3 linked regions of the Homo sapiens genome follow. The protein of the gene in region 1 purifies or fractionates together with the protein of each later gene. This does not show direct contact. Each region holds a gene or a part of one and is shown in the gene's direction. Other genes may lie near its edges. The genes, in order: LY9, GUSB and EDEM3.

What was found.
Region 2: the proteins of LY9 (region 1) and GUSB purify together in Homo sapiens (affinity purification with mass spectrometry; one large-scale study listed by BioGRID and IntAct). This does not show direct contact.
Region 3: the proteins of LY9 (region 1) and EDEM3 purify together in Homo sapiens (affinity purification with mass spectrometry; one large-scale study listed by BioGRID and IntAct). This does not show direct contact.

The regions. Positions count from the first base shown.
Region 1 is NC_000001.11:160,816,671-160,820,322, forward strand, and holds part of LY9 (T-lymphocyte surface antigen Ly-9 isoform a precursor), read left to right. Parts: coding exon 1-193; intron 194-1,547; coding exon 1,548-1,649; intron 1,650-2,650; coding exon 2,651-2,704; intron 2,705-3,652. UniProt on the Homo sapiens protein: Self-ligand receptor of the signaling lymphocytic activation molecule (SLAM) family.
Region 2 is NC_000007.14:65,968,694-65,972,345, reverse strand, and holds part of GUSB (beta-glucuronidase isoform 1 precursor), read left to right. Parts: intron 1-1,979; coding exon 1,980-2,064; intron 2,065-3,652. UniProt on the Homo sapiens protein: Plays an important role in the degradation of dermatan and keratan sulfates.
Region 3 is NC_000001.11:184,748,266-184,751,917, reverse strand, and holds part of EDEM3 (ER degradation-enhancing alpha-mannosidase-like protein 3 isoform 2 precursor), read left to right. Parts: intron 1-2,325; coding exon 2,326-2,371; intron 2,372-3,652. UniProt on the Homo sapiens protein: Involved in endoplasmic reticulum-associated degradation (ERAD). Accelerates the glycoprotein ERAD by proteasomes, by catalyzing mannose trimming from Man8GlcNAc2 to Man7GlcNAc2 in the N-glycans.

The DNA.
Region 1 (3,652 bases):
TCCGTGGAGGACGGGGGAAACACTGTCATGTACACATGGACCCCGCTGCAGAAGGAAGCTGTTGTGTCCCAAGGGGAATCACACCTCAATGTCTCATGGAGAAGCAGTGAAAATCACCCCAACCTCACATGCACAGCCAGCAACCCTGTCAGCAGGAGTTCCCACCAGTTTCTTTCTGAGAACATCTGTTCAGGTTTCTCTCCATCTCTATTTACTCAGGTCACAGGACCTTGGGGCCTCCAAGAGTTTGCATCCTGACTGATTCTTTATGAAGTGCAGTAAGAGGCTGTGGGTGAGAGCCCTTTAGAGTGGCATGCTTCCACAGATATATGAGAGTCACGCATGTGATTTTAATGTTCTAATAGCCACGTTAGAAAAAGCAAGAAGAAATAAAGTTATTTTAATAATATGTTTTATTTAACTGAATATATCCAAAATATCATTATTCAACGTGTATTCAATACAAAAAAATTCATTAGACACTACATTTTATTTTGTACTAAGTCTTTGAGAGCCAGTATGTATTTTACACTTAGAGCACGTCTCGATTCCGATGCTAAATTTTCACTGAAAGTGTTTAATCTATATTCAGACTTCGTAAAATTTACAGTTGAAAAAATAGATTTATGCACCCAAGTTATTCCAAGCATATTTATCAGTTTTTCAAGAAGGAATTGAGTAGCCATTTTTAAATTTAAACTAAAACTAAATAAAAGAAGCAATTTGGTGTCTCAGTAATACTAGCCACACTTCAAGGGCTTATGCATAGCTTGTGGCTACCATATTGAACAGCACAGAGTTACAGGCTTGTGGAGAAAAGCCAATAGGAAGCTGATATGGAAAGGGATGTGGACCACACAGGAACAAAGGCTGCGTGAGTGGGAGCTAGAAAAGAAGCCCCAGTGGCCCTTAATAAATGCTAAGTACTATTCTAGGCCTTCAGGCATTTTTGCACAATCTTCGCAACAATCCTACAGAGTAGATATTCTCGTTTTTCCCCTTTATATGGATAAAGAAACTGAGGCTCAGAAAAGATAAGGGACTTATCCAAGGTCACACCATAAAAGCTGGTTTCGAACCCTGAGCTCTATCTTCTGCTCTTCCGTAGAAGGAAGCAGAAAAAAGGTACGGTCTACCCAGGATCTGACAATGTTGGGTCAGATTGTGTCTGGCAGACAGATCTAGAGTCCAGCTTAACAGGAATCTGGAACTCCCCTCATATCATTTACAGCGGGGCAGTGTAATGTGGCGATTAAGGGCGCTGTAGGATCTGCACTCGAACCTCAGGTCAGACACTTGAAACACTGTGACACTGGGCAAGCCGTAAACCTCTCTACCCAGGGACTGTCTGCCTCAGGTACTGCTATAACCTCTTGCCTAGAGTAATGCTTGCTCGAAAAATGGTTGTAGAATGAATGAAAAGAAAGACTTTCCACAACGTCATGGATTTTAAGGGGCAGGTAGGATGGCCATCATGTTCTGTGCATTGTTTGCTCCAGTGTGTCTTGTCATTATTTGAATTAACATCACTCATTTCCTCCTCAAAGGACCTGAGAGAAACACAAAGCTTTGGATTGGGTTGTTCCTGATGGTTTGCCTTCTGTGCGTTGGGATCTTCAGCTGGTGCATTTGGAAGCGAAAAGGACGGTGTGAGTTTCCGAGATCAATGTTGTCCGCCAGTGCTAGGCCATTTCCCTGGGACTTGTGGAGGCTTCTCTGCCCTCACACAATCCCGTGCTACCCCTCCCTGCCAGCATCTTATTTCTTCTCAGAGCAATGGGGGAGGGGTGTCAGTTGGGACTCTTTACTCACAAATAATAGAAGCCCAGTTCAAACTGGCTTAGACAGAAAAAAAAAGGCATGTGGGAGCAGGGAGAGTGATTTATTATTTTTTCACTTAAATAATCAATCTGTGGGGAAGGCAGGGATAGAGCTGGCATAATGGAGAAATGTCACCAGAGGCTCAAAAGTCATCAGAGCTCTCCACCTTTCATCTCTACTGTGTATTTTGAGTCAGCTTAACTCTTCCTACTGCAGCCCGCTGAGGGAAGGGGTGGGAGCGAGGGGAGGAGTGTACCACAACACAACAGCTGGCAGCTCCAGACCCACACATACTAACAGCTCCGACACCAGACAGGGAAGAAAATGTGCTTCCCTCTAACTCCAATTTAAAGAATGTCAGAAATAGCTCTGATTGGCCCAAGTTAAGGTCATGTGGCTGCTGCTTGGACCAATTTCTATAGCCAAGAAGATACACTATTATGATTGGCAGCTCCTCTAGAATCCCAGTATTGGAGTGGAAATGAAGTAGTAGCCAAAAAGAGCAGAATGGGTAGAACACATGGGGTCCCTGGAAGAATTACTGAATTGCAGGCAAACTACTCTGATCAGTGGCTATGGCAGAGGAGCTCTCTCTTCTGGAGGGATGGCAGGAAGCTCCAGAGCCTCCACCTCTGCAGAAAGTAGCCCTAGACTCTGGCCACCCCTTCACATAGGCCTGGCTTCTCATCAGGGTTCATCCTCCTTCCTGAAGCCTTTTCCCTGTCTATGTCCCAGAAGTCTCTCCCCTTCTCATTTGACTCTCACAGAATAAAAGACACCTCTCACCTCACAGCCCTCTTGATAAACCTTCTCTAACTTTGTTTCTCAGGTTCAGTCCCAGCCTTCTGTTCCAGCCAAGCTGAGGCCCCAGCGGATACACCAGGTAACATCACCCATGACACAGGCTATGGGGTATCTGGTCCAAATGGAAGTTCTAAAGTCTTGCTGCTCAAAGTGTGGTCTGCTGGCCAGCAGTGTGGGCATCACCCAGGAAACTTGTTAGAAATGCAAAATCTGACCAGGTGCCGTGGCTCACACCTGTAATCCCAGCACTTCGGGAGGCTGAGGCAGGTAGATCACTTGAGGCCAGGAGTTCAAGACCAGCCTGGCCAACAAAGTGAAACCCTGTCTCTACTAAAAATAGAAAAAATTATCTGGGCATGGTGGTGCACGCCTGTAATCCCAGCTACTCGGGAGGCTGAGGCATGAGAATCTATTTAACCTGGGAGGTGGAGGTTGCAGTCAGCCTAGATCACGCCACTGCACTACAGTCTGGGCAACAGGGCAAGACTCTGTCTCAAAAAAAAAAAAAAAAAACAGAAAGAGAAAGAAAGAGAGAGAAAGAAAGGAAGGAAGGAAGGAAGGGAGGGAGGGAGGGAGGGAGGGAGGGAATCTTGGGCATCACCCCAGAATACTGATTCCAAACCTGTATTTTAACAAGATCCATAAGTGATTCATATGCCTACTGAAGTTTGAAAAGGAAGGTAGCATAGAAACAAAAGCCAAGATAGACTCCTTAGAGATGGTCACCAGAGCTAGGAGAGGCAGTCTGTCCCCCAGGGTCTCTAGGGTTCCTTGGGCATTAGCCATTCACCATTTGAATGTGGACTACAATGAGGATGGAGTTATTGTCTCCATTCTGAGAACAGAGAAACAAAGGCCAGATGGAACAGTACATCTGTGGTAGAAAAAAATTTAAAACTTAATTAAAATTAAACTTCAGGAGACTGTACAACCTATTACCTAAGAGCATCGTGGGAAATGGAACTGCTCTGACAGGTTTTAGTGTGGGGAGCTGAGATGCCTGCCTTTACTCCCCCACTCCCATGCC
Region 2 (3,652 bases), on another chromosome or scaffold:
TACTAAAAATAAAACAATTAGCGGAACACAGAGGTGGGCGTCTGTAATCCCAGCTACTTGGGAGGCTGAGGCAGGAGAATTGCTTGAGCCCAGGAGGTGGAGGTTGCAGTGAGCCAAGATCATGTCATTGCACTCCAGCCTGGGCTACAGAGTGAGATTCTGTCTCTCAAAAAAACAAAAACAAAAACAGTCTGTACTGTGGAGGCCTCGGGCAGGTGCCAGGAGCTCTGAGCACAGACGGGTCCCTCTGTTGGGTTTTTCTTCCCTTCTAAGGGCCATTTCTTCTTATTTATTTATTTATTTTTTGAGATGGAGTTTTGCACTTGTTGCCCAGGCTGGAGTGCAATGGCACAATCTCGGCTCACCACAACCTCTGCCTCCTGGGTTCAAGTGATTCTCCCGCCTCAGCCTCCCGAGTAGCTGGGATTACAGGCATGCGCCACCACGCCCAGCTAATTTGTATTTTTAGTAGATATGGGGTTTCTCCGTGTTGGTCAGGCTGGTCTCGAACTCCCAACCTCAGGTTATCTGCCTGCCTCAGCCTCCCAAATAGCTGGGGCCACAGGTGTGTGCGGCCATGTCAGGCTAAGTTTAAATTTTTTTTTTTTTTTCCGCAAGATGGAGTCTTGCTTGTTGCCCAGGCTGGAGAGCACTGGTGCAATTTTGGCTCACTACAACCTCTACCTCCTGGGTTCAGGCAATTCTTCTGCCTCAGCCTCATGAGTAGCTGGGATTCCAGGCGCATGCCACCATGCCCAGCTAGGTTTTTTTTGTATTTTTTTGTAGAGATAGACTTTTACCATGTTGACCAGGCTGGTCTCAAACTCTTGACCTCATGATCCACCCGCCTCGGCCTCCCAAAGTGTTGGGATTACAGGCGTGAGCCACCATGCCCGCCCCTAATTTTTAAATTTGTTGTAGAAACAAGGTCTTGCTATGTTGCCCAGGCTGGTCTTGAACTCCTGGTCTCTGGTAAAACTCCCAAAGTGCTGGGATTCTAGGCGTGAGCCGCCTTGCCCGGCACTTGCACCATTTCTCTGCATGCGTCTCCACTCCCACTGCCCAGGACCTGTGGACTTAGATTTGAGTCACTGCTGAGCACCTCGCACCTAGCCCCATGCCTGCCTCCCAGCCTGCACTCCGTTTGCTTGATGCATTAATAAATATCCCTCCCAAATCTGCATCCATCCACCTCCTGTGTTCAAGAGCTGTTTCAGGGCGTCAACCTCATTTTTGCCAGTGTCCAGCCTAGTGACCTCAGCTCTGTGTACCTGGAAGAGTGGCTGCTCCTCTGGGGGTATAGGATTCGGAGATGGGGGTAGAAGGAGTGATGTTAGAGAGCTCGGTCTAGGACTAGAGGATCATATGCCCTTATGTAAAATACATCTCAAGTTAGGGAAGAAAGCAGCGGCTCCATGCTTTTTTTTTTTTCCCCTTTGTTTTTGTTTGTTTGTTTTGAGACAGGGTCTTGCTCTGTGGACCAGGCTGGAGTGCAGTGGCATGATCTTGGCCCACTGCAGACTCCTCCTTCTGGGTTCACGCCATTCTTCTGCCTCAGCCTCCTGAGTAGCTCAGACTATAGGCGCCGGCCACCACGCCCGGCTAATTTTTTGTATTTTTAGTAGAGACGGGGTTTCACCGTGTTAGGATGGTATCGATCTCCTGACCTTGTGATCTGCCCGCCTCGGCCTCCCAAAGTGCTGGGATTACAGGCGTGAGCCACTGCGCCTGGCCGCTAATTTTTGTATTTGTAGTAGATAGAGTTGGGGTTTCACCATGTTGGCCAGGCTGATCTTGAACTCCTGACCTCAAGTGATCCACCCACCTCGGCCTCCCAAAGTGCTGGGATTACAGGTGTGAACCATCGTGCCTGGCCCCGTGTTGTGTTCTGGCGGTGGAAGATGGGACAGAGAGGATGGGAGGGTGTCTGAGCCATTCCTGGACTGATGGAACCTGTTTCTTCTGCCTTTTGTGGACAGGATGGTGATCGCTCACACCAAATCCTTGGACCCCTCCCGGCCTGTGACCTTTGTGAGCAACTCTAACTATGCAGCAGACAAGGGGGTGAGCCTGGGGGTCCCCACCCCACTTCTCCCTGCCTTTGCCTGGGCTTGTCCTGAAGCCTGGTCATGGGAACAGCCAGGAAGAACCATGCGCTGCCAGTCTGGGTTTTATTTCATTTTCTTTTTTACTTAAAAAGATAGAGACAGGGTCTTGCCATGTTGCCCAGGCTGGTCTCCAACTCCTGGGCTCAAGCAATCCTCCTGCCTTGGCCTCCCAAAGGGCTGGGGTTACAGGTGTGGGCCACCACACCCCGGCCGCAGCCAGTCTGTTTTCACAGATGGTCTTTGGGTTAATGAGAATTCTCCCCCTGCTTACTCGCCAGGCAGTGTGGCTTTCTCAATCCAAGGAGGCTGGGCATAGGGAGATGGGATTTGTTTGCTCAGTTTGGACTCAGCATTTTTTGCACTTCGATTTAATAGACTCATAAAACATCAAAGATTTAAGGGAGCTTAGAGTTCATCTGGCCCACACCTGGCTGATGAGAATCTCTAGGGGAAGTTTTTATGAAATGCCAGATCTCTGCATTCTGAGGTCCTGATTTAGTACGTCCAGGGTTGGAACTTGAGTTTTTCTTTTTCTTTTGTAGAGGCAAGGTCTTACTCTCTTGCCCTGGCTGGAGTGCAGTGGTGCAATCACAGCTCACTGCAGCCTTGAATTCCTGAGCCCAAGTGATCCTCCTGCCTCAGCCTCCCGAGTAGCTGGGACTCCAGGTTTTCACCACTGCGCCTAGCTAATTTTATATCTTTTTGTAGAGGTGGCATCTCTCTATGTTGCCCAGGCTGGTCTCAAAGTCTTGAGCTCAAGTGATCTCCTGCCTTGGCCTCCCAAAGTGCTGTGATTACAGGCATGAGTTGCAGTGCCTGGCTGACATTAGCATTCTTTATTTATTTATTTATTTATTTTGAGATGGAATCTTGCTCTGTTGCCCAGGCTTGAGTGAAATGGTGCAATCTCAGCTCGCTGCAACCTCGTCCTCCCAGGTTCAAGCAATTCTGCCTCGGCCTCCTGAGTAGCTGGGATTACAGGTGCATGCCACCACACCCAGCTAATTTTTGTATTTTTTAGTAGAGATGGGGTTTTGCCATGTTAGCCAGGCTGGTCTCAAACTGCTGATCTCAGGTGATCTGCCCACTTTGGCCTCCCAACGTGCTGGGATTACAGGCGTGAGCCACCACACCCGGCCAGCATTTTTACTAGAAAGAAATGTGTTCAGGACGCATTAGAAACTAGCCAGTTGGACACAGAAGCCCCTGCTGCTCAGCTGTAAGCACCGCTATGCTGAAGCTTGGGGTGGTCCTACTCGGTCGTCACCGCCCTGCTCCTTGGAGTGACTTTTCTGGCCCTCTGCAGTCCACAGTGCTGCCTTGTGAAAGCTCCCTCAAGATCCTCTGTGACAGCCGGGCATGGTGGCTTACACCTATCATCCCAGCACTTTGGGAGGCCGAGGCAGGCAGATTACTTGAGATCAGGAGTTCAAGACCAGCCCAGCCAACTGGTGAAACTTCATTTCTACCAAAAATACAAAAAATTAGCTGGGCGTGGTGGCGCACGCCTGTAATCCTAGCTACTCGGGAGACTGAGGCATGAG
Region 3 (3,652 bases), about 24 Mb from region 1:
GCCAGGTGTGGTGGCGCATGCCCTTAATCCCAGCTACTCGGGAGGCTGAGGCAGGAAGAATCGCTTGAACCTGGAGGCGAAGGTTGCAGCGAGCAGAGATCGTGCCATTGCACTCCAGCCCGGGCAACAAGAGCAAAACTCTGTCTCAAAAAAAGAGAAAAAGCCGACTTACAGAAATTACTGAAGAGTGGTGTAATTTTTGAACTGGGTCTGATTTCCAATACATTTTAATCCAGTTTTTGAATAGATAAAACATTATGGAAATTTTTTTTTCTGTTCAGTATAGTAATTATTATACCATTCTGTATTTAAATGTGACTTTGTTAGGCTTCTATGTGTAAGAGCAATGATATTAAATAGCTCCACTTTGAAATATGTGTTCTAAAATTTGCTCATCATATGCTGCATAAATGTAAGGATTGGAAAATAGTGTATTCTCCTTGTATGCAATCATGATTTACTTACAGTCTTGAAAATTGAATGCTTGTAAAGTTGAGTTAGCAAGTTAAAGCTTATGTCATTTGTAATATACATGTCTAGGCACTACCATTGCCAATTATAGGAATTTCTACTTCTTGGTAATAATCTCGTATTCCATTTCAGGGAAGGAAAAAAAAGAGGACTTCCATCTTCCATTCATTGATATGAGTTCCTGAAAGGGACATTTTAAACTTTTTTTTTTCTGCTTAGGACAGGATAAGAGTCTAGAGCTGTAAACCACAAATATAAAAATTATATATATATAAACATATATATATATGTAAACTTACAAAGAATTAGTGCTTTAGCAAAGTGGTGGTAAGGTCTTTTTTTAAATAATGAAATGTTTTTAAGTGGTTATTATTCATATGTTGTCAGGACTTAATTCGTTCACAAGTTTGAGTGTACTTGATTTTGTTGGTGTTCATAGTCAGGATCTGGAACTGAGGTCTTTTCTGTTTGCTAGCTCTATTATTACCAGTATTTCATAATCTGTGATTATAGTTTTAAAAATGACAATTGCAGTATAACAGGAGGCAAATAAAAATATAGTCAGCAATTTCTTTAACACTTTTTTCAATTCTTGCCATCAGTGATTGGAACTTTGGTAAAAGAAAAGTTAATAGGCCGGGCGTGGTAACTCACACCTGTAATCCCAGCACTTTGGGAGGCTGAGGCGGGTGGATCACATGAGGTCAGGAGTTCGAGACCAGCCTGGCCAACGTGGTAAAACCCTGTCTCTACTGAAAATGCAAAAATTAGCCAGGCATGGTGGCAGACGCCTGTAATCCCAGCTACTCGGGAGGCTGAGGCAGGAGAATCGCTTGAACCTGGGAGGTGAAGGTTGCAGTGAGCTGAGATCGTGCCACTGCACTCTAGCCTAGGTGTGACAGAGTGAGACCCTGTCTCAAAAAAAAAAGAAAAAGTTAATAAAAAATTGTTAAGCTGTGTTTTCCTTTGCTAATTATTTGGCCTTGTCTGGTCATACAATTAACTTGTACTTTTTCCTGTAGTCCTCAAGTCCCTGAACTTGAGAGTGCTTAATTGAAAGGCTGCTTCCTCAGTCGCAACCTTACAGGTTTTGATTTAGTAAAATTCTGGTGTAGTGATCAGACATCTCCATTTTAAACAGTGGTTACGGAGATTTTGTGAAACAGAATTCGCCAAAACACACAACTCTCTTTTTGAGCATTAGTTTTCTCATTTTGGAAGTGAATACTATTTATTTGATTTTTGACAGTTTTTTTAGAGTAGAGCACATCATAAAAAGTATCTTTTGAAAATATGACAAACATTAATAAATATGTACTTAAACTAGGCATTAGTGGTTTATTCAATGTAAGTGCAAAGGCAGAGGCTTCATAAAGCGTTGTTATTTCATGTCACTACACACCTGTGTACCTCTCTCTTAGTAGAACATATAGGGGAAGCAATAAATGGCAATAATAATGGTTTTTTTAAAGGGCTGTCCAGCAAAACCCCCGCTTCAAGACAGATACGTTAAATAATTGTGTTAAGAGGTCATTGTTTTTCTGCATCAGATTTCCTTCTCTGATGATGGCATCTATCATTCATCAGTTTTCTTAGGAAAAATTATAAGATGAATTGTACATAAATTACTAGTAATCATTAAAGTTTGGCTCAGCTCTGTGTGGTGAGTTCATGAAAGCTTGTCTGCTAGCTGTTGTAGTTTCTGATTCTGTTTATGTCCCTTTCTACCTAAATTTTTCTTTTGTTTTTATTGGTATATTTTTTATGAGGAAGAATTAACTTTTTGAAAGATAATAAATAGAATATACTTACCTTTTTTTTTTTTTTTTTCCATTTCTGCTCTTTTAAAATTAGGAATCAAGTACTGGAAATGTTTGATCATGCTTATGGTAACTATATGGTAAGTAGGAAGCTTATCTTTACCTACCATTTATGTGAGTTGATTATTATGTGAGCACAGTCAACTGGGAATTTTGAAACCTACAATACAATTACATTTTTTAAAAGGAAGTTTTTAAAAAACAGGGCAAAAATAGTCTTTCTGGTAGTGGTTTTTAGGGAACCAGTTTATTGAACAGATAAGAATAAATTGAAATTAGATTATGAAACTTCATTATTTAAACAGCTTCCTTGGGTGCCATCAACAATTATCATTGAGTGCTTTATATAGCTAGATATTGTGGATATATACATGAAGATGTTATCTCTGGTCTTAAGGGAGATTATTCTCTTAATTTAAAAAAATGTTTACAATATTTATACACTGAAGAAAACCATTGCTTAAAAGAGAAATTGTTACTTAGCCTCTGTCCTAATTGTATCCTCATGGACTCTGCACTGAATATATTTTGCTTTTTAGTTTGCTGATTCATATTATTTAAAAATGTTTTAGGGCTCACTTAAGATTAAATAGCAGTTTCAGTTTTACAAGATGAAAAGTTCTGGAGATCTGTTGTGCAACAACGTAGATGAAATAGCAAATTCTGGAATTCAAAAAAAATTTTGCACATAAATTGTAATTTGAAAAGAGTTTAAGCATATTATCCTGAAACTTATCCCTTATAACCTTGTTTTTACATTTTAAAATATGTCAGCAGATTTTCTTCTATGATTACAACGTATAAAATGTAGTTGGGAAAGTTTGGCAGAGGACTAGCTTTAGTTCTGCTTAAAATATTTTTCAACTGATTCTGTGAATCCATTTTTTATCATATATTAACCAAATATCTTCATACACTAACATCATTGTTATCTATGAACATCTAAATATATGTAATTTATGCATTTTTAGTTTTAAAACATGTTTTATATTTGACAGTCCTCGTTCTCTTTTATATTGTAAATTTGGAGAGAGCACATTTTGAGTTCTTAATGTTTTTAGGATATGATTTTTTTTGGATACATTTCAACATTAAAAACACAGTTTCAAATTTATTTCTCAAGACCTCAGTCATTCCCTTAATGTTTTTTTTGTTTTTTGTTTTTTGTTTTTTTTTTTGAGACGGAGTTGTGCTCTGTCGCCCAGGCTGTGGAGTATAGCGGCACTATCTCAGCTCACTGCAGCCACCACCTCCCAGGTTCAAGTGATTCTCCTGCCTCAGCCTCCTGAGTAGCTGGGATTACAGGTGTGTGCCACCATGCCTGGCTAATTTTTGTATTTTTGGTAGAGATGGGGTTTCAC